Linked DNA regions of Homo sapiens: region 1 is linked to region 2. The links come from fine-mapping of genetic effects on gene expression. A gene starts in region 2. The other region holds a variant in brackets. All regions are shown on one strand. Distances are between the middles of the regions.

What was found.
Region 1: its variant is fine-mapped to the expression of GFOD2 in sun-exposed skin (GTEx, PIP 0.97). The same link has a PIP of 0.9 or more in unexposed skin.

Annotation. Positions count from the first base shown.
Region 1 is chr16:67,776,757-67,789,119 of GRCh38, reverse strand. The region is part of intron 2 of RANBP10 (RAN binding protein 10); the gene reads left to right. Among named protein-coding and RNA genes, the nearest start is that of RANBP10, 24 kb to the left of the region's middle. RefSeq lists an enhancer at 7,511-7,660. The variant T/C (reference allele first, on the strand shown) is at 4,769.
Region 2 is chr16:67,713,327-67,725,689 of GRCh38, reverse strand. GFOD2 (Gfo/Idh/MocA-like oxidoreductase domain containing 2) reads left to right here and starts at 6,374. Exons shown (of 3, transcript NM_030819.4): 1 at 6,374-6,527. It overlaps RANBP10 (RAN binding protein 10), which reads left to right. Exons shown (of 14, transcript NM_020850.3): 14 at 1-2,620. RefSeq lists silencers at 6,457-6,506, 6,567-6,616 and an enhancer at 6,977-7,056.

The sequences.
Region 1 (12,363 bases), 63 kb before region 2:
CAGGCTGGTCTTGAATTCTTGACCTCAAGTAATCTGCCCGCCTCAGCCTCCCAAAGTGCTGGGATTATAGGCGTGAGCCACTGTGCCCGGCCTGCCTGGATAATTTTTTTTTTTTCCTCTTTTGAGACGGAGTCTCACTCTGTTGCCCAGGCTGGAGTGCAGTGGTGTGATCTTGGCTCACTGCAGCCTCCACCTCGGTTCAAGCTATTCCCCTGCCTCAGCCTCCCAAGTAGCTGGGACTATAGGCGTGTGCCACCACACCTGGCTAATTTTTGTATTTTCAGTAGAGATGGAGTTCACCATGTTGGCCAGGCTGGTCTCGAACTCCTGACCTCAAGAGATCTGCCCGTCTCGGCCTCCCAAAGTGCTGGAATTATAGGTGTGAGCCACTGTGCGCGTCCTGCCTGACTAATTTAAAAAAAAATTTTGGGGGCAGGAGCGGTGGCTCATGCCTGTAATCCCAGCACTTTGGGAGGCCAAGGCAGGCAGATCACGAGGTCAGGAGATCAAGACCATCCTGGTTATATGTTGAAACACCGTCTTTACTAAAAATACAAAAAAAAGGGCTGGGCGCGCTGGCTCACGCTGTAATCCCAGCACTTTGGGAGGCCGAGGCGGGTGGATCACGAGGTCAGGAGATCGAGACCATCCTGGCTAACATGGTGAAACCCCCTCTCTACTAAAAAAATACAACAAAAAATTAGCCGGGCATGGTGGCGGGCGCCTATAGTCCCAGCTACTCGAGAGGCTGAGGCAGGAGAATGGTGTGAACCTGGGAGGCGGAGCTTGCATTGAGCCGAGATCGCACCACTGCACTCCAGCCTGGGCGACAGAGCAAGACTCTGTCTCAAAAGAAAAAAAAATTTGTAGAGGCCAGGCGTGGCTCTACAGGCTGACAGAGTGAGACTCTATCTCAATCAATCAATCAGTCAGTCAATCAAAGTTCCAGCTACTTGAGAGGCTGAAGCAAGAGGATTGCTTGAGCTCAGGACTACAGGCTCACGCCTGTAATCCCAGCACTTTGGGAGGCTGAGGCGGGTGGATCATGAGGTCAAGAGATCAAGACCATCCTGGACAACATGGTGAAACCCAGTCTCTACTAAAAATAAAAAAATTAGCTGAGTGTGTTGGCATGTGCCTGTAGTCACAGCTACTCGGGAGGCTGAAGCTGGAGAATCACTTGAGCCCAGGAGGTGGAGGTTGCAGTGAGCCAAGATCGCACCACTGCACTCCAACCTGGGCAACAGGCGAGACTCCATCTCAAAAAAAAATTTTTTTTTTTCTAGAGACAGAATCTCGCTATGTTACCCAGGCTGGTCTTGACACCGGGCCTCAAGTGATCCTCTTGCCTCAGCCTCCCAACGTGCTGGGATTACAGGCATGTGCCACCATACCCAGCCTAGAACTTCATTCCTTTTTATGGCTGAATAATATTCTGTTGTACTTATATATACATCACATTTTGTTTATCCATTCTTCTGTTGATGGACGCTTAGGTTGCTTTCACCTTTTGGTTATTGTGAATAATGCTGCAGCAAACATTGGTGTACATAGTGTTTGAGTTCCTATTTTCAGTTCTTTTGGGTGTTCACCTAAGAATGGTATTGCTGGGTCATATGATAATTTTTATTTAACTTTTTTGGGTAACTACCGAACTTTTCCATAGTGGCTGCACCATTTTACATCCCCACCAGCAGTGTGTGAAGGCTCCAATTTCTTTACATCCTTGCCAACATTTATTTTATTTCTTTCTTCATTTTTTTATTTTTTAAAGCCTTGCTGTCTTGCCTAGTCTGGTCTTGAACTCCTGAGCTCAAGCAATCCTCTTGCTTCAGCCTCTCAAGTAGCTGGAACTTTGATTGATTGATTGATTGATTGATTGAGATAGAGTCTCACTCTGTCACCCAGGCTAGAGTGCACTGGCGCTATCTCAGCTCATTGGAACTTTTGCCTCCCGGGTTCAAGTGATTCTCCCACCTCAGCCTCCTGAGTAGCTGAGATCACAGGCATGTGCCACCACGCCTGGCTAATTTTTGTATTTTTAGTAGAGACAGGGTTTCACCATGTTGGCCAGGTTGGTCTCAAACTCCTGACCTCAAGTAATCTGCCTGCCTTGGCCTCCCAAAGTGCTGGAATTACAGGTGTGAGCCACCATGCCTGGCCTATTTATTCTATTTTTTCGTTGTTGTTTTTGAGATGGAGTCTAGCTCTATCCCCCAGGCTGGAGTGCAATGGCTTGATCTGGGCTCACTTCAACCACCACCTCCCTGGTTCAAGTGATTCTCATGTCTCAGCCTCCTGAGTAGCTGGAATAACAGGTGTGTACCACTACGCCTGGCTGATTTTTGTATTTTTAGTAGAGACAGGTTTCACCAAGTTGGCCAGGCTGTCCTCGAACTCCTGACCTTAACTGATCTGCCCGCCTCGGCCTCCCAAAGTGCTGAAATTTCAGGCGTGAGCCACTGCACTTGACCTGGAACTTTTAAATTATAGCTATTCTAGGTATGAAGTGGTAACTCATTGTGGTTTTGATTTGCATTTCCTAATGACTAGTGATGTTGAGGATCTTGTTATGTGCTTATTGTATGTGGCTATCTGTATAGATTCTTTGGAGAAATGTCTGTTCAAGTCCTTTGCCTGTTTGGGTTGTTTGTCTTTCTGTTGTTGAGTTATAGGAATTCTTTATTTTTGATATTAAACCCTTATCAGATCTATGATTTGCAAATACTTTTTCCTATTCCATTGATTGTCTTTTCACTCTCTTATTTTTTATTTTTATTTTTATTTTTTTCAGATGGATTTTTGCTCTGTCGCACAGGCTGGAGTGCAGTGGTGCAATCTTGGCTCACTGCAGACTTAACCTCCTGGGCTCAAGTGATCCTTCCACCTCAGCATCCCAAGTAGCTGGGACTACAGGTGCATGCCACCATGACTGGCTAAATTTTAAATTTTTTGTAGAGATGGGGTCTTGCCATGTTGCCTAGGCTGGTCTTGAACTCCTGGGCTCAAGCAGTCCTCCTGCCTCCACAGCCTCCCAAAGCACTGGTATTACAGATGTGAGCTACCATGCCTGGCCTCTTGATGATGTCTTTTTTTTTTTTTAATTATTATTATTTTTTTTGAGATGGAGTCTCGCTCTGATCTCCGCTCACTGCAAGCTCCGCCTCCCAAGTTAACGCCATTCTCCTGCCTCAGCCTCCCGAGTAGCTGGGACTACAGGCGCCTGCCACCATGCTCGGCTAATTTTTTGTATTTTTAGTAGAGACGGGGTTTCACCGTTTTAGCCAGGATGGTCTCGATCTCCTGACCTTGTGATCCACCACCTTGGCTTCCCAAAGTGTTGGGATTATAGGCGTGAGCCACTGTGCCTGGCTTTTTTTTTTTTTTTGAGATGGAGTCTCACTCACTCTGTTTCCTAGGCAGGAGTGCAGTGGTGTGATCTCAGCTCACTGCAACCTTTGCCTCCCGGGTTCAAGTGATTCTCCTGCCTCAGCCTCCTGAGTAGCTGGAATTACAGGCATGGACCACCATACCTGGCTAATTTTTGTATTTTTAGTGGAGACGGGGTTTTGCCATGTCGACCAGGCTGGTCTCGAACACCTGACCTCAAGTGGTCCGCCTGCCTCAGCCTCTCAAAGTGCTGGGATTATAGGCATGAGCCCCGATGATGTCTTTTGATGCACAGAAGTTTTAATATTAATTAAGTCCAATTCATGTATTTTTCTTTTTGTTCATCCTTTTTGTATCATCTCTAAATCCATTGTGAAATCAAAGGTCATGAAGATTTACCCTTACGCTTTCTTCTAAGAATTTTATGGTTTTGGCTCTTTCCTTTTTATTTTAGTTTTTCCCTTCCTTCCCTCCCTCCCTTCTTTCTTTCTTTCTTTTTTATTTATTTATTTATTTTTGAGACCGACTCTCGATCTGTCACCCAGGATGGAATGCAGTGGCACGATCTCGGCTCACTGCAACCTCCTCTTCCAGGGTTCCAGTGATTCTCCTGCCTCAGCCTCCCGAGTAGCTAGGATTATAGGCACCTGCCACCACGCCTGGCTACTTTTTTTGTATTTTTAGTAGAGATGGGGTTTCACCATGTTGGCCAGGTTGGTCTCAAACTTCTGACCTCAGGTGATCTGCCCGCCTCGGCCTCCCAAAGTGCTGGGATTACAGGCGTGAGCCACCGCACCCAGCCTATTTTTTTTTTTTTAAGTGCTACTGGGCCAGTGCCAGATTTTTGGCCCAGGGCCTTACCTCTTATATTTAGATCATTTTCTTTTCTTTTCTTTTTCTTTTTTTTTTTTAGATGGAGTTTCGCTCTTGTCACCCAGGCTGGAGTGCAATGGCTCAATCTCGGCTTACTGCAACCTCCGCCTCCCGGGTTCAAGCGATTTTCCTGCCTCAGCCTCCCGAGTAGCCGGGATTACAGGCATACACCACCAAGCTAGGTTAATTTTTTTTTTTTTGGGATGGAGTTTCACTCTTGTGGCCCAGGCTGGAGCGCAATGACTCGATCTTGGCTCACCGCAACCTTCACCTCCCAGGTCCAAATGATTCTCCTGCCTCAGCCTCCAGAGTAGCTGGGATTAGAGGCATGGGCCACCACGCCCGGCTAATTTTGTATTTTTAGTAGAGACGGGGTTTCTCCATGTTGGTCAGGCTGGTCTCAAACTCCCAACCTCAGGTGATCCTCCCGCCTTGGCCTCCCAAAGTGCTGGGATTACAGGCGTGAGCCACCAGGCCTGGCCTAATTTTGTATTTTTAGTAGAGA[T/C]AGGGTTTCACCATGTTGGTCAGGCTGGTTTCAAACTCCTGACCTCAAATGATCCACCCGCCTTGGGCTCCCAAAATACTGGAATTAACAAGCGTGAGCCACCTCTCCCGGCCTCCACCTGATTTTCTTATGTTGAACCATCCTTGCCTTTCTGGGATAAATCCCATTAGGTTGTGGTATATAATCCTTTTAATACACTGTTGGATTTGGTCTGCTACTATTCTATTAAGGATTTTTGCATCTATATTCATCTATATTGCTCTATAACTTTCTTTTCCTTTGATGTCTTTTTTTTTTTTTTTTTTTTGAGACGGAGTCTCTCTCTCTGTCACTCAGGCTGGAGTGCAGTGGCGCCATCTTGGCTCACTGCAACCTCCACCTTCCAGGTTCAAACACTTCTCTGCCTCAGTCTCCCGAGTAGCTGGGATTATAGACACCCGTCAGCACGCCCGGCTAATTTTTTTGTATTTTTAGTAGAGATGGGGTTTTACCATCTTGGCTAGGCTGGTCTTGAACTCCTGACCTTGTGATCCACCTGCCTTGGCCTCCCAAAGTGCTGGGATTATAGGCGTGAGCCACCGCACTCAGCCTGATGTCTTCTTAGTGGCTTTTTGATTGCTGTTCCAGGGTCTTCCTCATCTTGGGTTTGCATCTGGGCACTGCACATTTACAATGTGCACAGACATTTTTCTGTGAAGAATTGAAGTCTAGGTCAAAGCTGGGAAGGAGCTTAGGAGCCTTTGGTTTAACCTTTCCTCCTCTAATAAGGAACCTGATATGTGGGTTGAAATCTAAGACCCATAGTCTTGAATTAGGCTGGAGTGTCTGAGACCAGCCTTTTAGAGTCAAGGGTGTTGTGTTTGGAGCCCTGCTGTGAAGTGTTCTTGTCACCTCAGAACTCTTCAGGAGGCAGGAGGGGAAGTCAGACTTGTTGCCAAAGGGGTTCTCTGTGCAGGGTTCTCAAACTTGTTATCAGGACTGGGTGGTAGAGTACAGTAAAGGGGTCGTCTCCTTCCCGTGGCCTTGTACATATCTGGGAGGTGTGAGAGTCAGGTGGCCCTGGTTTCTAAAGTTCTGTCCTCTGTCCACCACCAGGCCTGCCTGGGTCGCAGAAGAAACTCTAGTCAGTTGGAGCTGTGCCAAATCTGTCTCACTGCAGCAGGGTCTCCTGCGTGTGTGCTCTGTGCCCAGCTTGGGACATACTAGGTGCCATGTGAGCCGGAACCTCAGGGCCTCTGCTCAGCAAGGATTTTGACTGTTTCTGAAGCTGTACTGTTGTGATGCAGCCTCTGCCCTTCTGTCAAGACTCGGGGTGCTAGGTGGACCAAGGAGCTGACTGTGAAAGCCACGTTCCCTAATGTGTCCCCCATCACTGAAATGTCCTGGGGTGATCCAGAGAGAGTCTGATGAGTGAGAGCCAAAAACCTCTGCAGTATGTAGCCATTACTCTTAAAAGTGGCTTTTAAGAGATGGCTCTTAAAAGTGGCTTTTAAGAGATGGCTCTTAAAAGTGGCTTTTAAGAGATGGCTCTTAAAAGTGGCTTTTAAGAGATGGCTCTTAAAAGTGGCTTTTAAGAGATGGCTCTTAAAAGTGATTTTTGGCCCAGCACGGTGGCTTATGCCTGTAATCCCAGCACTTTGGGAAGCCGAGCTGGGCGGATTACATGAGGTCAGGAGTTGACCAGCCTGGCCAACATATAGTGAAACCCCATCTCTACTGAAAAATACAAAAATTAGCTGGGTGTGGTAGCGCACGCCTTGTAGTCCCAGCTACTTGGGAAGTTGATGCAGGAGAATTGCCTGAACCTGGGAGGCAGAGGTTGCAGTGAGCCAAGATCGCGGCACTGCACTCCAGCCTGGGTGACAGAGCAAGACTTCGTCTCTAAAAAAATAATAAAATAAAATAAAATATAAAATAAAATAATTGGCTGGGTACGGTGGCTCACACTTGTAATCCAAGCATTTTGGGAGGCCAAGGCAGGCTGATCGCTTGAGCTCAGGGGTTCAAGACTAGCCTAGGCAACAGGGCAAATCCCCATCTCTAAACTACCCAGGTGTGGTGGCACTCACCTATGGTCCCAGCTATTCAGGGGGCTGATGTGGGAGGATGGCTTGAGCCTGGGAGGCAGAGGTTGCAGTGAGCAAGGTCTCACCATTGCACTCCAGCTTGGGAGACAGAGTGAGACCCTGTCTCAAATAAAAACTAAAAATAGAAATTAAAATTTAAAAATTGTAAAAAGTAATTTGTGTTAGTTGTAGAAAATCTGGAAAAGCAAAGAGAAAAAGGAATCCAAGAGGACTGGACTGTGCTTGCAGCTCTCCACATGACTGCAGGGTTTCAGCAGACTTGAGCTCGGGTGGCAGGGCTGGGTGGACCCCCTTGCTCGGGTGGCAGCATGGACCCCCTGCCAGTTGCAGTGGATAGTGGGAGCTTCTGGGTGGATTTGTGAGTGTGGACACCTGTGGGCCTTTGCTGCCTGCTTCCAGGTGCGGTTGCTTCTTCTCTATCTTGTGTTCTGGTGGATCTCGACTCCACTTGTCCCAAGCAGTGCCTATTTGCTGCCCTCTTCTCTCTTGAGCTAGATAGGGCAGAATAGCTGTTCTCGTATCTCCACCTTGCATTGTGGTTTTGGCAGGCAACGGTAGGAACTGAGAAGTTACAGGCCTACTCATGGCCTCACTGCCACGAAGAGCTTGTCTGTTGCCTCTCTGTGCTTCCTGTCTCACCTCTCTGGCATGATATTTCTTCTCCACTTTGCTGCCATATAGAAGAAAGGAGTAAATCAGATGGCTTTACCTTACTTTCACCTGTGTCATAGCGTAAATAATTCCCTCTCCCCAGCTCCTGAAATATATCCTGCAGTTAGAAAAGAAGGCCCTGGTAGAGAAGTGTTGGGAGCTAAGCTGCTCTATCTATTCTAGTCACCTGCTCCGGGAGTAAAAGCCCTTGTTGCCGCCCTCCCTCCCAGGCTGACCCAGGCAGGTTGTATCTGTGAGTGTTTCTAGCATAGCCTGGCCCATTACCAACAAGGAAGCAAATATTCACCTCCTTTCTCCTTGGTAATCTCAAGTAAACAGGTGTTTGTTTTAGATGTCCTGAGATCCAGGCCTTCCAGAATGGCCTCATTTCCTTACCAGATCCTGATGCTGGAAGATCCTCCAGTGTATGAATGAATGGACAAAGTGGGGTTGTCCCATCATCCACCTTCAGCCTCCGGCACTGCGCTCAGGTGCTCGTTTGTCTGATCCTGTTGAATGGCTGCTTTGGGGGCTCTCCAGCCTCAAGGTAATAGCTGATAAAGCAGGCTCTGAGAGCACATGGGACATGCCAGTGGGCATGTGTTGAACTCAGTGGCAGAGGTGAGATTGGAGTCTAGGATTGTAAACTGTGTTTGCTCCTTGGAGCTGTGTTCTGAGATGTGTGTGCGTGGCATCAATGCCAGGGCTAGAGAGCACAGCTGGAGAATGGCTGCTGCTAACTCTGACTGAGCACTTTGGCTCCAGTATTTCCAAGTGGGTCTCAGAGAATTGACCTTTCCTTGGTGCCTGGTTGTGCTGGGCAGTGTCTTGGGCTTCTCTAGCTCCTCCCCCACCCAATAAATTAACTGTGTTCTAAAGAGCACTTGCCTGTCTCCACATCATCCCACTGCTCCTGTCCCACCCTTGTCATCTTCCATGGGAATGACTCTGGAAGTGTCCAGTTTTGGTTCTTCAATCCATTTTTCAAATATCAGCTGTTTGATCAGCTGTACCCTTTCTTTTTTTTAGAGACAGAGGTGGTCTTGTTATGTTGTCTAGGCTGGTCTTGCACTCCTGGCTTCCAATGATCTTCCCGCCTTGGCCTCCCAAGTAGCTGGGATTATAGGCTGAAGCCACCATCCCCAGCTTAGCCCCTTCTGTGGCTTCCCATTTACCTCTCATGAAGTTCAGACTCCTTAAGCTAGCATGCAGGCTGTGCATGCACAGCCCATTTCCAGATCCAGCTGTCTGTCTTTCTAGGTCTGCCCAGACTGTAACCCAGTCATACTAAACTTCTCTTAGTTCCCCAACCACGTGGCTGCTTTCTTGCCTCTATGCCTTTTCACATTCTGCTGTGTTTTTTTGTTTGTTTGTTTGTTTTTTGAGACGGAGTCTAGCTTTGTTGCCAGGCTGGAGTGCAATGGCGCAATCTCGGCTCACTGCATTCTCCGCCTCCCGGGTTCAAGTGATTGTCCTGCCTCAGCCTCACGAGTAGCTGGGACTACAGGCACCCGCCACCACGCCCGGCTAATTTTTTTATTTTTAGTAGAGATGGGGTTTCACTATGTTGGCCAGGATAGTCTGGATCTCTTGACCTCGTGATCCACCTGCCTTGGCCTCCCAAAGTGCTGGGATTACTGGCGTGAGCCACCGTGCCTGGCCCACATTCTGCTGTTTTTGAGTGGACCATGATCCTCTTTCTCCTGTCATTTACTTTACCAGGCCTTGGCTCAGCCTTCACTTCCTGAGGGAATTCCCCATTTTGAGTCAGCACACCTTGACTCTCTGGCTTGCCCTGACTTGACATTAGAACTGTTGGAGGGCAAGGATTGAGCCCAGGCCCCCACCCTTATGTCCCCAGCATCATACTGGGTACAGGGCATTTTTGTTGATGACATGAATGACTGGAAGAACCTCTATGAAAAGAAATTTATCACACCTGTTTTTACTGAATTACTCAACGTTAGCAAGGACCCAAGAGCTCCTAATAACTCAGCCATATTCAGGTGCCTGCAGAGATCAATAGAGGAAGGGTAGTGTCAGTGGCCTCCTATGGGGATTCTTCCTGTTCCATAGATGCAAAGATACTGCAGTATGTGTACAGGAGAATGAGTTTGAGGTTTTTGTTATGCCCTTTCCTTATTTATTTTTGTCTCATTCTTGGCAGCTCAAAGGGTACAAAGTGGTATCTCGCTGTGTTTTTTTTTTTTTTTCTTTGAGACAAGGTCTGGCTCTGTCACCCAGGCTGGAGTGCAGTAGTGCCATCTCGGCTCACTGCAACCTCCACCCACCCCAGGCTCAAGCCATCCTCCCACCTCAGCCTCCTGAGTAGCTGGGACTACAGGTGTGCACTACCATGTCTGGTTAATTTTTGTATTTTTGGTGGAAACAGGGTTTCACCATTTTGCCCAGGCTGATCTCGAACTCCTGGTCTCAAACAATCAGCCCTCCTTGGCCTCCCAAAGTGCTGGGATTACAGGCATGAGCCACTGCGCCCAGACTATTTTTATTTTATTTTTATTTTGAGACAGTGTCTCACTTTGTCACCCAGGCTCTGGAGTGCAATGGCGGGAGGCACTGCAGCCTCAACTTCCTGGGCCTCAAGCTGTGCTCCCATCTCAGCCTCTCAAGTAGCTGAGACTACAGAAAAGCACCACCACGCCCAGCTGATTTTTATATTTTTTGTAGAGATGGGGTTTTGCCATGTTGCTCAGGCTGGTCTTGAACTCCTGAGCTCAAGCAGTCCATCTGCCTCGGCCTCCCAAAGTGCTAGGATTATAGGCATGAGCCACTGTGCCTGCCCTCACTGTAGTTTTGATTTGCATTTCCGTAACGATAGTGATGGTGAGCATCTTTTCAGGTGCTTGCTGGCCACATGTACACCTTCTTTAGGGAAACATCTCAAGGCCTTTGCCACTCTCATTTTTTAGAGATGGGGTTTTGCTGTGTCGCCCAGGCTAGTCCCAAACTCCTGGGCTCAAGCGATCCTCCTGCCTCAGCCTCCCACATTGCTGGAACTACAGGTGCACATCACCATTCCTAGCTAAAAGTTTTAAAGTTTGATGAAGTTTACTTTATCTATGTTTTCTCTTGTTGCCTGTGCTTTTGTCCAAGAAATTATTGCCAAATCCAATGTCATGAAGCTTGCTATGTCTTTTCCTGAGAGTTGAAGTTTTAGCTCTTATGATTAGGTCTTTGATCCATTTTGAGTTGATTTTTATATATGGTGTAATATAAGCAAAAAACTTCTTTTTTTTTTTATTTTAGACAGAGTTTCGCTCTTGGTGCCTGGGCTGGAGTGCAGTGGCGCGATCTTGGCTTACTGCAACCTCCGCCTCCTGGGTTCAAGCGATTCTCCTGCTTCAGCCTCTCAAGTAGCTGTGATTACAGGCATGCGCCACTATGCCCAGCTAGTTTTGTATTTTTAGTAGCGACGGGGTTTCTCCACATAGGTCAGGCTGGTCTTGAACTCCCGACCTCAGGTGATCCACCCACTTTGGCCTCCTGAAGTGCTGGGATTACAGGCGTGAGCCACCGCACCTGGCCAAACTTTGTTCTTTTGTTTGTGATTATCCAGATGTCCCAGCGTTATTTGTTGAAAAAACTGTCATTTCCCCATCTAATGGTCTTAGCATCCTTGTTGAAATCAGTTGACTATACATGTGAGGGTTTATTTCTGGGATCTCTATTCTATTCCTTGGACTGTAGGTCTGTCTTTATGCGAGTCTTAAACTGATTTATTATTGTAGCTTTGTAGTAAGTTTTGAAATCAGAAAGTGTAAGCCCTCCAACTTTGTTCTTTTTAAGATTGTTTTGACTGTTTCTGTCCCTTGAGATTCCATATGGATTTTTCTATTTCTGTGGAAAACATCATTGGGATTTTGATAGGGATGGCCTTGAATCTGTATATCACTTTGGGTAGTATTGACATCTTAACAATAGTGAGTCTTCTAATCAGTGAACAGAGGATGTCTTTCCATTTATTTGTGTCTGTAATTTCCTTCATCAACATTTTATAGTTTTTAGTGTCTTTAGCCTCCTTGGTTAAGTTTTTTTACTTTTTTTTTCGTTTTGTTTTGAGATGGAGTCTCGCTTTGTCGCCCAGGCTGGAGTGCAGTGGCGCGATCTCGGCTCACTGCAAGCTCAGCCTCCTGGGTTCACGCCATTCTCCTGCCTCAGCCTCCCCCGTAGCTGGGACTACAGGCCCCCGCCACCATGCCCGGCTAAATTTTTGTATTTTTAGTAGAGACGGGGTTTTACCATGTTAGTCAGGATGGTCTCAATCTCCTGACCTTGTGATCTGCCCGCCTCAGCCTCCCAAAGTGCTGGGATTATAGGCGTGAGCCACCGCGCCCAGCCTACTTTATTTACTTTTAAGTATTTTTTTTCTTTTTTTTGGGTGGGGGACGGAGTTTCGCTCTTGTACCCCAGGCTAGAGTGCAATGCTGCGGTATTGGCTCACTGCAACTTCCACCTCCCGGGTTCCTGCAATTCTCCTGCCTCAGCCTCCCGAATAGCTGGGATTACAGGCATGCACCACCACGCCCGGCTAATTTTTGTATTTTTAGTAGAGATGGGTTTTCACCATGTTGGTCAGGCTGGTCTTGAACTCCTGACCTCGTGATCCACCTGCCTCAGCCTCCTAAAGTGCTAGGATTACAGGCGTGAGCCACCGTGCCCAGCTTAAGTATTTTATTCTTTTGATGCTATTGGAAATGGAATTGTTTTCTCAATTTTTTTTTGATTGTTCATTATAAGTGTGTAGCAATACAACTGAAAAGTGAGAAATAGAGTAACTTATTAGTTCTTTTTTTTTTTCTTTTTCTTTTTCTTTTTTTTTTTGAGACAAAGTCTTGC
Region 2 (12,363 bases):
GAGCTGGACAGAGCAGAGAACTACAGGGCCAAGGGTCCAGAGAAGTGATAACTTGGCCCAGGGCCACACAGCAGAGGTAGAGGGTCCTTGGCCAGCACACTATCTACCACTCTACCCCACCTCCCACTGCCTGCCTTGCTCCCCTTTCCTCCCTTTTCAATACCCTATCTTCCCTTGTTGTTAAGATGGCCAAATAATACATTTACTCTAAATTGATTGCCTGGAAACTACCTGCCTTCGTCCTGAGAGCTTCTGTGTGTCAGGCTGCTGGAAAGAAGACTCCATTCCCAGGACAGAGGCCCTTGAGTACAGGGGCTGCTTTCTTCCTGCCTAGATCTTCACCATCTCTGCACAGCTCTGAGAGAATGGATGCTTTCTGTTGAGAAACCAGTACCTTGTGGAGGCAGGTTCTTGGGCTGCTACTCCAGGGAGTGGATGGAATCCTTGGTCCCCTAGGCCAGACTTCACTGCCACTGTGCCAGACAGCTCCCTGCAGCTGGGCCCTAGCCACTCTTAGGAAAGACTATTGGGAGTATTTGCTGGCCAGAGAATGGGACTCTATCAGCTTTACACATGTCCCACCAGCTGTTTCAGATAGATCCTTACAGCTGGCAGAGTAAAAGTGGTCCCGCTACCATTGGGGAATCAGGAAAGGAAAGACTGAGATGGTTGCCAGGACTTGGGGTGGCCCACCTGTGGAGAGGACTGGCTGCCCTGGAGGAGGAAAGGGAGGAAGTCTACACAGAGGAGCACCAGGACGGCTGGAATTTCCATATGTGCTTCACATTGTGAGGGGAGTGCACAAGCCGCCCATGCAAAGAGTAGGGTCAGCCATGGCAAGGCCGGAAGTTGAACTTTCAGTCCCTGCCTGAATCTGGGCTTTGCAAGCTCCTGCTCCATATTGGTGGACATGGGAATGGTTGGTGTGGCCTGAGATACCCATTGCTCACCAGGCCTCACTGGGCCCACAGCTGGGCAACAAGAAAAATGTTTGAATTGGACCAACTGCTGGTGATGGGGCCAGGGCCCTGGGCCCTGTGCTGTCAGAATTCTGCCTTGGGAAATGATCCTATAGCTGCTGCTTTTTCTTGGTCCTTGGGGCTGGCAGACCCATAGACCATGGCCTGTTAGGAGGCGTCCTGTCTGTAAAGGAAATTCATCTCTTGTGACAGCCTGGGGCTACCTAGCTCCCAAACCCAGAAGTTGGAGACATCAGGCTGTTTAAATGATCATAGCCTAGCAGGATTGGATTAAAACCACAGGCTTTTGCAGCTGGAATGGGGTTCAGTGAACATCTCCCCCATTCCTCTCTTGCTACAAATAAGGAAACAGGCCCAGGAGATTAAGTGACTTGGCTAAAGTCACATAGCAAATTAGTAGCAGAGCCGGGACTATCCCTTATCCCTGTGGGTTGGGCAACACTATTTAGTCCTGAAACCGAATGGCAGATAAACCCCATGAGGGGTCAGGCTGATGTGCCCTCCAGCAGTATCTGAGAAGCTGCTACCTTCAGGGGTGTGTCAGGGATGAGGACGGGTGCCTGAGCTTAGGTTGTGGAGTGGCTGAGAGGGCCCAGGAGGGCTCGGGACAGCTGTGTGCTGCATGGGGTTGGGTGTCTGCCTGGCTCGCACTTGGTACCCATGGCCACCTCCCCATTTTCTGTGCCTTATCTCACTGTTTCAGCTGAGTCCAAGTTGTTTACTCTGTTCCTCTCCAGAGGGGCTCTCTGTCCCAGTTGGGCAGCTCACCTTTGGGACATAAGCCTTTGCCCCACAAGCTGTGGAGAGGGCCAAAACCAAGCTGCTTGAGCCCACTCTCTTGCTGAGAGTCCAGGCCTGCCTGCCTGCCAGCCAGAGGTGCCCCTTATGCACATCCAGTCCTACCAGCCTGCTTCCAGGAGCCTAGAGTGGGAAAGGCACCTGGGGGAGCCCTGGTGAAGGGCTGGACCTGACCCATGGAGGCAGGAGGAAGACCTGGCTTTCTTGGTTTGTCCGGCCCTGGGGAGCAGCCTTCCCTACTCACTTTCCCCTTGCGGCACCAAATGGTCACTCCTTCCAGAGCAAAAACTGGCACTCATAGCAAGCCAGAACCCCCATCCCCATCCTCATGGGTCTGTGGCTGGGTGCAGGCCATCAAAATGGACACCACGAGACAGAAGTGGGGACTGCCTGGCCACCTAGCGCCTTCCCACTCCTTAAGCAAGCACAAAGAAGATGAGGCAGAGAATTGTCAGAGCTGAAAGTTCCTTTGGTTGCTCACAACTCAGGTATGCACCCATGTGGCAGCCAGGCAGCGGAGCCCTACTAGACTGCCAGTCTCATGCACCCAGACCTGTGGCCAGATTGTGGCCTCTGGCTGCCTCAGGCATTTTCCTCTTTGCATTGGGTTTTCCTGCATTAGTAACTACAGCTGCAACAGACATCCTCCACATTGTGCACACTGGTTTTGCCTTTGTCCTCAAGAGTTGATACTTGGCATTAGCATGAAACTTGTGGGTGTGGGAGGATGGAGAGAGAACTCTAACACAAAACATCTTATTAAAATTGTACTTGAGAGACAAAAAAAAAACTCTGTTGTATTTTGACAGAATTATTTTTATTAAAATACACATCCATGAGCAGTCATGTGTGTCTGGTCTCTGTTTTGAGTCTTACTGAGGTTGGCACCCCTTCTGTGACACATCCTGTCCTAAAGGATTTGGGCCCTTCCCAGCCTCTCAAGTGCCCAGGCCCTCAGGTGCCTTCTTCAAGGACCTTTGAAACTGTGTATTTGTAAGACCCCAAAGAGGACAGGTACTTAAACCTCAGTTCTCTCTTGAAACGGCTTTCTTCTTATACAAGGAAAAAGTAGCAAATTCAACTAAAGAGCCTGGGCACAGTGGCTCACGCCTATAATCTCAGCACGTTGGGAGGCTGAGGCAGGTGGATCCCTTGAGCTCAGGAGTTCGAGAACAGCCTGGGCAACATGGCAAAACCCCATCTCTACAAAAAATACAAAAATTAGCTGGGCATGGGGGCGCATTCCTGTGGTCCCAGCTATTCAGGAGGCTGAGGTGGGAGGATCACTCGAGCCCAGGAGGTCAAGGCTGCAGTGAGTTGAGATCATACCACTGCACTCCGGTCTGGGTGACAGAGTGAGACCCTGTCTCAAAAAAAAAAAAAAAAAAAATTCAACTAAATAAAGGTGGGCCACAGGAACTTTTCCCCACAAAAATAAGGTATTAAGAATACATTTCAGAGCCAGGTGCAGTGGCTCACCCTGTAATCCCAGCACTTTGGGAGGCCAAGGCAGGCAGATCACCTGAGGTCAGGAGTTTGAGACCAGCCTAGCCAACATGGTGAAACCCCGTCTCTACTAAAAGTACAAAAATTAGCCAGGCGTGGTGGCGGGCGCCTGTAATCCCAGCTACTAGGGAGGCTGAGGCAGGAGAATCGCTTGAACCTGGGAGGCAGAGATTTCAGTGAGCCAAGATCACACCATTGCACTCCAACCTGGGTGACGAGTGAAACTCCATCTCAAAAACAACAACAACAACAACAAAAACATTCCAGGGCCAGGTGCATTGGCTCACGCCTGTAATCCCAGCACTTTGGGAGGCCAAGGCAAGAGGATCGCTTGACCCCAGGAATTCGAGGCCAATCTGGGCAACATAGACCCTGCCTCTACAAAAAATAGAAAAAATTAGCTGGACATGTTGGTGTCTGCCTGTGGTTCCAGCTTCTCAGGAGGCTGAGGCTGGAGGATTGCTTGAGCCTGGGTGGTTGAGGTTGCAGTGAGCCATGATTGCGCCACTGCACTCCAGCCTGGATGACAGAGCAAGGCCCTGCCTAAAAAAATAAAAAATAAAATTCCAAATATGCTCGCCTCAAATACTGCACAGTCAGAAAGTTTTCTGGGGGTACCTCTTTTGAGAGTTTGTTTTTGGGTTTTTTTTTTTTTTTTTTTTTTTTGAGACAAAGTCTTGCTCTCTCTCCCAGGCTGGAGTGCAGTAGCATGATTATGGCTCACTGCTACCTCAACCTCCCAGGCTCAAGTGATCCTCCCACCTCAGCCTCCCAAGTTGCTAAAACTACAGGTATGTGTCACCATGCCTGGCTAAGTTTTGTATATTTTATAGAGAAGTTTCACCATGTTGGCCAGGCTGGTCTCGAACTCCTGGTCTCAAGCAATCCTCCTGCCTTGGCCTCCCAAAGTACTAGGATTACAGGCGTGAGCCACGGCACCCAGCCTGACGGGTATTGAAATTAGCTTCCTGTCTCTTGCCTGAGGAGCAAGAGCTTGTTTCAAAATCCTCGCACCGTTTACTGTGTTAACATGGAAAGTTAACCTCTTTCTCCGAGACTGTTTCCCCATCCTTAAAACATGGTAAATCCTTCTGCCCCGTGGAGGTAGAGGATTATGGCAGATATACAGCAGTGTTTGGCACACAGGGATACACACAGTACACATGAGCATCCTTCCTCCATGAGGATGCCCAGTGGTGTGACTGGCCCACTCCTGCCTGCCCTGTCCCCGAGGCACCAGGGTTTTATGCAGAGGAGGGATACGGTAGATCATGCTGGTGTCCACCTGAAGGTGGTACTGGAGACAAATTGGAGCAAAAGAACCCAGGTAGGAGGCTGCAAAGAGGGCAGGTTTGAGAAAGATTTAGGAGAGAATTGGAGGTACAAGATGAATAACTGAATGTGAGGGAAATAGGAGAAGCAAGAGACAAGGCAAATGCAGACTTTGGTTGGGGGTGATGGGATGGATAATAGTACCACAAAATAACACAGAACAGAAGGGGGCAGGCAGTGGCTAAAAGTCACTGGAATTGGGAGGTTTGCCAGTAAATTAGGGGAGGTTTGCCAGTAAAAAAGTCACTGGAATTGGGAGGTGGTCCAGTAAATTAGGAAAACTGTCTTATGGATGTTCACAGTGATCGCCACCAGCTAATTAAAAGCTCAATCCTGTGTTAAAATGTGTTGCTTAACCCTGCACTTTCCAAACTTAAGTTACTACAGACTGTGTCACTCAGCAGAATCTTACAGGACTATTACTCTATAGAATGCTCTTAGGGAAGAGGTAGCATAAAGGGGAAAATATGGGTTTTAGATTAAGCATAAAGTCCTGGTTCTATATAAGTAAAGCCAGAGTAGGCTCATTTCCCCCTAGACTAGTGGTTCTCAACTGGGAATGATTTTGCTCCCAGGGAGACACTTGGCAATGTCTGGAGATATTTTTGGTAGTCACAACTGGGCTTGGGGTGCTACTGGCATCTACTGGGTAGAGCCAGGGATGCTGCCAAACATCCTACAATGCAGACAGCTCCCCCCACCCCTGCCCAACAAAGAATTATCAGGTCCAAAATGTCAATAGTGCCACTGTTGAGAAATCCTACTCAAGAAGAGTGGAACTCCGAACAATGACTAAGAAACAGATCAAACAGGCACATTTTGACTCTGCCTTCCTTCTGCCTGGCTCTAGAGGATCCAGGAGAGAAAGGATAAAATCCCATCAGAAGAGGGGGGGTTTAGGGGTTACAACTTCTCATCACTTTGGAAGCCTTCCATGCTCCTCACAGAGGTGGTAGGAGTCCTGTCTCCGCTCAAAGCAGGGATAGCTCTGCTGCTAGTTAGCATATCTCAGTAGGAACTGCCTCACGCTTAGGTCAGCTGACATATTCTGTCACCACAGGCTGCTCTGGAATGATGGCTGGGAGATCATCCTAATGCCAGCTGAGTGGGGATCTTGATACTCAGCAGGAGGGTCAGACAAGCAGGGACGGGGGCTCCCCATGCAGATACAAACCCCAATCACATTTCCTACACAGGCAGTTTTATTCTAAGGTCTAACGGCTTCCTTACTCTAGCGGATAGTTTGCTATTTGGTGGGGCATAGGCTTCAGTAAAGAGGCCAAGGGGACTGAGGTTACAGTCTTGAAGAGCACTGATATTTAAGGAACAATCAAAAAACATCCAGAGGAAGAGGAGCCCAGACAGGCACCTGAGAAAACGGAAAAACGAGTCACTGGGGGTCAGGGAGCCAGGAAGTCCGACGAGTTCGAGAGAACTGGCCTTCTGCAGATATGTCCTTGTCCAACACGAAACCGTCTTTCATTCCAGGACAACTGAGGCTACCCACAGCTACCAAAACCTGGTCCCTGACGCCGGTCAGCGGACCGGAGAGAAGCCAAGCTTAGGAAACTGCCGCCTCCGCCGCCGGAAATGAATAACCTGAGCCTCCTAGCCAGGCTGCTTAAGCTCCGCCCCCAAAAAGCGAGCATGCGCAGCTCCCGGCTACGGCCCCTCCCAGCGCAGGCCCATCCCCGTTATGGAGCATGCGCAGTCCTCCTGCCGTCCCGCCCCTCCCTTTCCAGAGCCCCCAGTTCCTTAGAAACCAGGCGGCGCGTTCCCGGTGGCGGCGCCCTGGACTCCCGGGCCCGCGCATCCCCGCCAGCCTTCCTTAAGGCGGATGGGTGGCCCCCGAGACCCCGTCGGACCCATGGTTTCCAGTGCAGCGCGGAGTGGGCGATGCCAGCGTGCCAGGTGAGAGGCGGCCACCGGTGGCGGGTGAGGGCGAAAGAGGGCATGGCGCGGCCGGGAGCGGGCGCCGACAGGGCCTTCTCCGCGGCCCGGCGCCGGAGGTTGGAGGCGTGGACCCGCAGAGCCGGGGTTGGAGGGGGCTTGTTCCAACTGCCTGCAGGCGCGTGGAGTGGAGGGTCGCCTTGGGATTCGCCCTTTCCACCGCAGAAATAGGACCCGCAGGCTTGGTGGTAGAATTATAGGATTTGGGATCCTGGAAGAACCTGAGACATAACCCATCCTTTTACCAGATGCAAAAACCTAGTCTCCCCCGCCCTGTGCCGAGCGGACCACCTGACTGTGTGAGGATGGACGCTTTGTGGATGAGGATGTGTGAGGTGTAGAAGCTCAGACAAAGGGCTCGTGGGGTAGCTGGTTCGTCCCCTTTCAGAATGAGATGGGACTTTTGGGGATAAATCTTTAAGAAACGGGTGTTCAGTTGACAGGTGGAAGAAGGGACACCCCAGAAGGTGCGAGTGGCTCTGCCAGCTCCCATGTGCCCTATGGCCACGTCTCAATGGCCCTGGCCTACCTTTGTATTTGTAGCTCTGGAAGGAAGCAGATGGACTTGAGACAAAAGGTGAAGTGAGGTCTTCCCATCAAGGCCCTATCACACTTAAAAGGTGAGGGAGGAAGAGTGGACAGGGACATGAGGGCTTGGGAATGGTTGTGTGAAGAGTTTACCCTCCAGACTACAGCACGATCTAAAGAACAAGGCAGGATAGAAGAGTTGAAAGCTGTATTGGATAGGCATCAGGGAAGCTTATTTAACTGTCTTATTTATGTTCATTGTTCCCATAATGTTATCCTGAGGGCAAGAAAGTGGATGTCCTTTTAAATGTCCAGAAAGAACTAGGGCAGGGCACCACCTTTGTGATCTGTGGGGCCCAAAAGCCTCTAAAGGAATAGCCCTTAGTGTGTGGCCCTTAAGTTGAAGGGAACAGCATTTAATTTAGAAAAGGAAGGCACTTAAATTTATTGTGATATGGAGCAATATAGAGAAGATGGTTGTTTTTGAGTCGGGGAAGCTAGATTCATTCTTGATAAGGAAACTTATTTCCTTCTGGAAAGCTACACTAGAGAACAAAAGAGTTTTAAGGCCATCCATTTTACAGGAAACGTGAAAAAATTAACTGCTTTGGGATTGGGAGTTTAGAGAACCTGCCTGGACCAAGAGAGGAAATTTTCAACAGACGGTTCTGTTGGTCGAATCCTTATTTCACAGATAAAGATTCTGTTGTGAGAGGTTATCTCTTACCACCTGGTTTTCCCACTTTGCCATGGAATAATCATTGGTCTGGGTCTAATTCTCTATCTATCTATCTATCTATCTATCGAGACGGAGTCTCACTCTGTCACCCAGACTGGAGTGCAGTGGTGCGATCTCGGCTCACTGCAATCTCCGCCTCCCAGGTTCAAGCGATTCTCTGGCCTCAACCTCCTGAGTAGCTGGGACTACAGGCATGTACCACCACGCCCAGCTAATTTTTGTATGTTTAGTAGAGAAGGGGTTTCACCATGTTGGCCAGGCTGGTCTTGAACTCCTGACCTCAGATGATCTGCCTGCCTTGGCCTCCCAAAGTGCTGGGATAACAGGTGTGAGCCACCACACCCAGCCCTCATTATTATTTTTATTTGCTAGGGCAATTGCTATCTGATTTCTATAGTAATACTAGAACACATTGGTAGTAGAACTAGCAATTTTTTAGAAAGCCTCCTCTGACCCAAAACTTAAAAATTAGAACTATGTGATTTTTAAAAGATGGTCCCTGATTCTAATCATCAAAGTCAGTTTGTCCCTAGCTTGATAAAAACTAATTTTCTATTTACATTTGACTTTGCAGCAGGTTTTTCCCCTTGCCCTTATAAGAAGATACATTGGAAGTATAATAATGTTAACAGGTGAAATCAGTTTAAAGAAGAAAGCTTTGGGCCGGGCGCAGTAGCTCATGCCTGTAATCCTAGCACTTTGAGAGACCAAGGTGGGTGGATCACCTGAGGTCAGGAGTTTGAGACCAGCCTCACCAACATAATGAAACCCCGTCTCTACTAAAAATACAAAATTATCGGGGCATGGTGGTGCACGCCTGTAATCCCAGCTACTTGGGAGGCTGAGGCAGGAGAATCGCTTGAACCTGGGAGGCAAAATTTGCAGTGAGTCGAGATCGCGCCATTGCACTCCAGCCTGGACAAGAGCTAAACTCTGTTTCAAAAAACAAAAAAAGAAGAAGAAAACTTTGTCTTGGCTTCATAATTCAGCATCATACCATAACTATGGGTATTGTGACTGTGCTTTTTACCAACTTTTCTTGCACCTGTGGGGTTATTTTGTATAAATACCTCAGGAGTTATAATGGGGCATTATCAAAAGCAAATGTAACCTCTGGGGAAAATCAGTACTGTTAACCAAATTCTGTCAGAAAGGCTTCATGAAAATCATTGTGTTCTGTGCAGAAACCTTCATTACTTTCACGTTGACCCAGAGGAAGGTAAGACAAGTAGGCCAAAATCAAGTCAAGGTAAAATGGAAGGGAGCAGTTGCCACCTGTGGAACTGGATGGACTGTGGGAGGGTGTTTTGAACGTGGGCACAAATACTTTGAATGAGCTTTTGGAGAGGGTACTGCTTAAATACGGCTGTGGTGTGACCTGTGGATTTGTGTGAGTTTTCTGAACTCCAATCAGAAAAACACTTGTTTTCAGAGAAAGGTAGACTTACAGAGGACTCTCAAAAGTCCTGGTTGCTATGACAGTGAAACCTTTGACAAATAATTACTTAACTTCTATGCCATTTTCTGGAGCAGCTGAGGGCAGTTATCATATCTGGCCTGTAATAAAGTAATCAACAGTGTTTGACAGGCCAACCATGAGGAAACCCTACCAGATAAACCAGCAATGCTAATAGAAGCTACTTTCACTGAACTGATTTTCTAGTTTTCCCATAAGAGGAGAAATGGAATGGGGATGCAATGTCATCTGATGTTAGAAGTTGAAATGCAGAGGTCGGTGTTCAGAAAACACAGGATCAGAGAGACCACTAACTTAGAAATAGGAAAAGTGCCTTTCTGATGCCTGAAAAGTCACTCATGCATATTTATTTTTAAATGTTTATTCATTTTTGAGACAGGGTCTTGCTCTGTCACCAAGCCTGGAGTACAGTGGCGTGATCACAGCTCACTGCAGCCTCTGACTCCTGGGCTCAAGTGATCCTCCCACCTCAGCCTCCTGAGTAGCTGGGACCACAGGTGCATGCCACCATAGACAGCTAATAAAACAAGTTTTTTTTTTTTTTGTAGAGATGGGGGTCTCTATAACAGGGGGTCCAATTCTAGAACAAATCCACAATTGGAATTAGAGTACATCTAGGAAAGAATGGAATTGGAGATTTTGCTATTTTTGAGAACTTATATACAGTATAGTAATGGAACATTATCTTTCTTGCATTCAAAAGTAGTAGATTTATATTAGCAAACTTAAAAGCAAACTGAAATTTGGAGTCTAAAAGTCCTTATTACTTGAAAATTTAAATGGCAGGTGTTTTAAAAAGTGAGAATGAAAGACACTTGAAAAGCTTGGGTTCATGAAAGTTAGAATGGTAGGAGATACTGAGAAAAACATGAAAGCAGGAAGAATTCCCTACACTCTAACACCTCCTTATAAATTAGACATTGGGTTGGGAATGAGCTCACTGAAGTACCTTGTCTTCAAAGACAAAAAAAAATTTTCTCTCATGGTGATGTGAATAAACACTTAGAAAATATGGATTAGAGCCAGGCGCGGTGGCTCATGCCTGTAATCCCAGCACTCTGGGAGGCTGAGGCAGGTGGATCGCCTGAGGTCAGGAGTTGGAGACCAGCCTGGCCGACATAGTGAAACCCCGTCTGTACTAAAAATACAAAAAATTAGCTGGGTGTGATGGCGGGTCCCTGTAATCCTAGCTACTAGGGAGGCTGAGGCGGGAGAATTGCTTGAACTCGGGAGGCAGAGGTTGCAGTAAGCCAAGATCGTGCCATTGCACTCTAGCCTGGGCAACAAGAGCGAAAGTACGTCTCAAAAAAAAAAAGAAAGAAAATATGGATTAAACATTAAGAAGGAAGAATCGAATATTTCCATGTTACTTAGTACCCTTGAACCCTGTCCTTAAGCACTTGTTTGCTAGCTCCTGCTCTTAGAAAGGAATTGCAAGTAGTGTTTTTGTCCAAGGTACTGTCATTTCTCAAGGTAGCCAGTGATAAAATGTATATACTCTTTGGGACCCTGGATAGTCCTGAAATTCGTGGGAACATAGCTCACTCTCTCTGCCACCTTTCTAAGTCATTCCCAAGAGCTTCTGTAAAGATTTCTATCAGTCCTCTATAATCAAGGATTTGGAATGAAGACTGTGAAAAATGGGAACTGAGTACTTAGTGTGGTCTTCCTTTCTGGCCTGGGATAACTGTGCTACTCTCAAATTGTCAGCTCTCAATTTCTCATGAGAATAGATAACCCCAAAATAGAACCCAAAACACTTCTACTTGGCTTTGAGATTTTACTGTATCACTTTATAACCTCAAAATCTTTATTATTTACTTTCATAATTGTATTTTACTTAGGATGATAACCTTAGGCAAATCGTGTAATTTCTGGATCGTAATTTTTTTTTTTTTTTTTTTTTGAGACAGTGTTTCTATCTCCCAGGCTGGAGTGTAGTGGCACAATCCCGGCTCACTGCAATGTCCACTTCTGGGTTCAAGCGATTCTTGTGCCTCAGCCTCCCGAGTAGCTGGGATTACAGGTGTGCGCCTTCATGCCTGGCTAATTTTTGTATTTTTAGTAGAGATGGGGTTTCGTCATGTTGGCCAGGCTGGTCTTGAACTCCTGGCCTCAGTGATCGGCTCACCTCAGCCTCCCAAAGTGCTGGGATTACAGTTGGGAGTGACCCTGCCTGGCCTCTGGACCATAATTTCTTAACCTGTATAACAGGAAGCAAAATGAAAATGTCATAAATGTGTAACACTAGAGAATGAAAAGCTAGTTCATACGGTCAGTGGCTGTGATATTGTGAAATACATATTTGGTCTTCTGTCTCTGTTTCCTGGCATGCAATTTCAATAGGTTGGTGCAAAAGCAATTGCAGATTTTGCCGCAAAGTAATGGCAAAAACCGCAGTTGCTTTTGCACCAACCAAATCCCTGGAATCTCCTGAGTGATGGTTTTTTGTATGCTAATGAGTTAACTGGTGGCTGGCAGCTCCTGGGTAGTTTCAGGCTGGGGACTGGTCATAGGAAACATCAAAGCATGATTAGAGGGTTGTGACTTTCAGCCCCACTCTGCAACCTCTGGGGAGGAGAGTGGGACTGAAGGTTAAGTTGATCGTCAATGGCCAGTGGTTTAATCAATCATGCCTAGTTAATGAAGCCTCCATAAACACAGGGAGGGCATGAAAGCTCCAAGCCCCTTCCCCCATACCTTGCCCTATGCACCTTCTTCATCTCTATCCTTTGTAATATTCTTTATAATAAACCAGTAAATATAAGTAAGTGTTTCCCAGAGTTCTGTGAGCTGCTCTAGCAAATTAGTTGATCTGAAGGAGGGAGTCATAGGATCTCCAGTCTGTAGCCCATCAGGCAGAGGCACAGTTGAAACAACCTGGGGCTTTTGATGGCATTGGAAGTCGGGAAGGGGAAGTCTGTGGGACTGAGCCCTCTACCTGGGGGATCTGATGCGATTCTCCAGGTAGATATCGTCAGAATTGAATTGAAGGACACCAGCAGGTGTTGACTGCAGAATTGCTTGCTTGCTTGGTGTGTGGGGAGAAACCC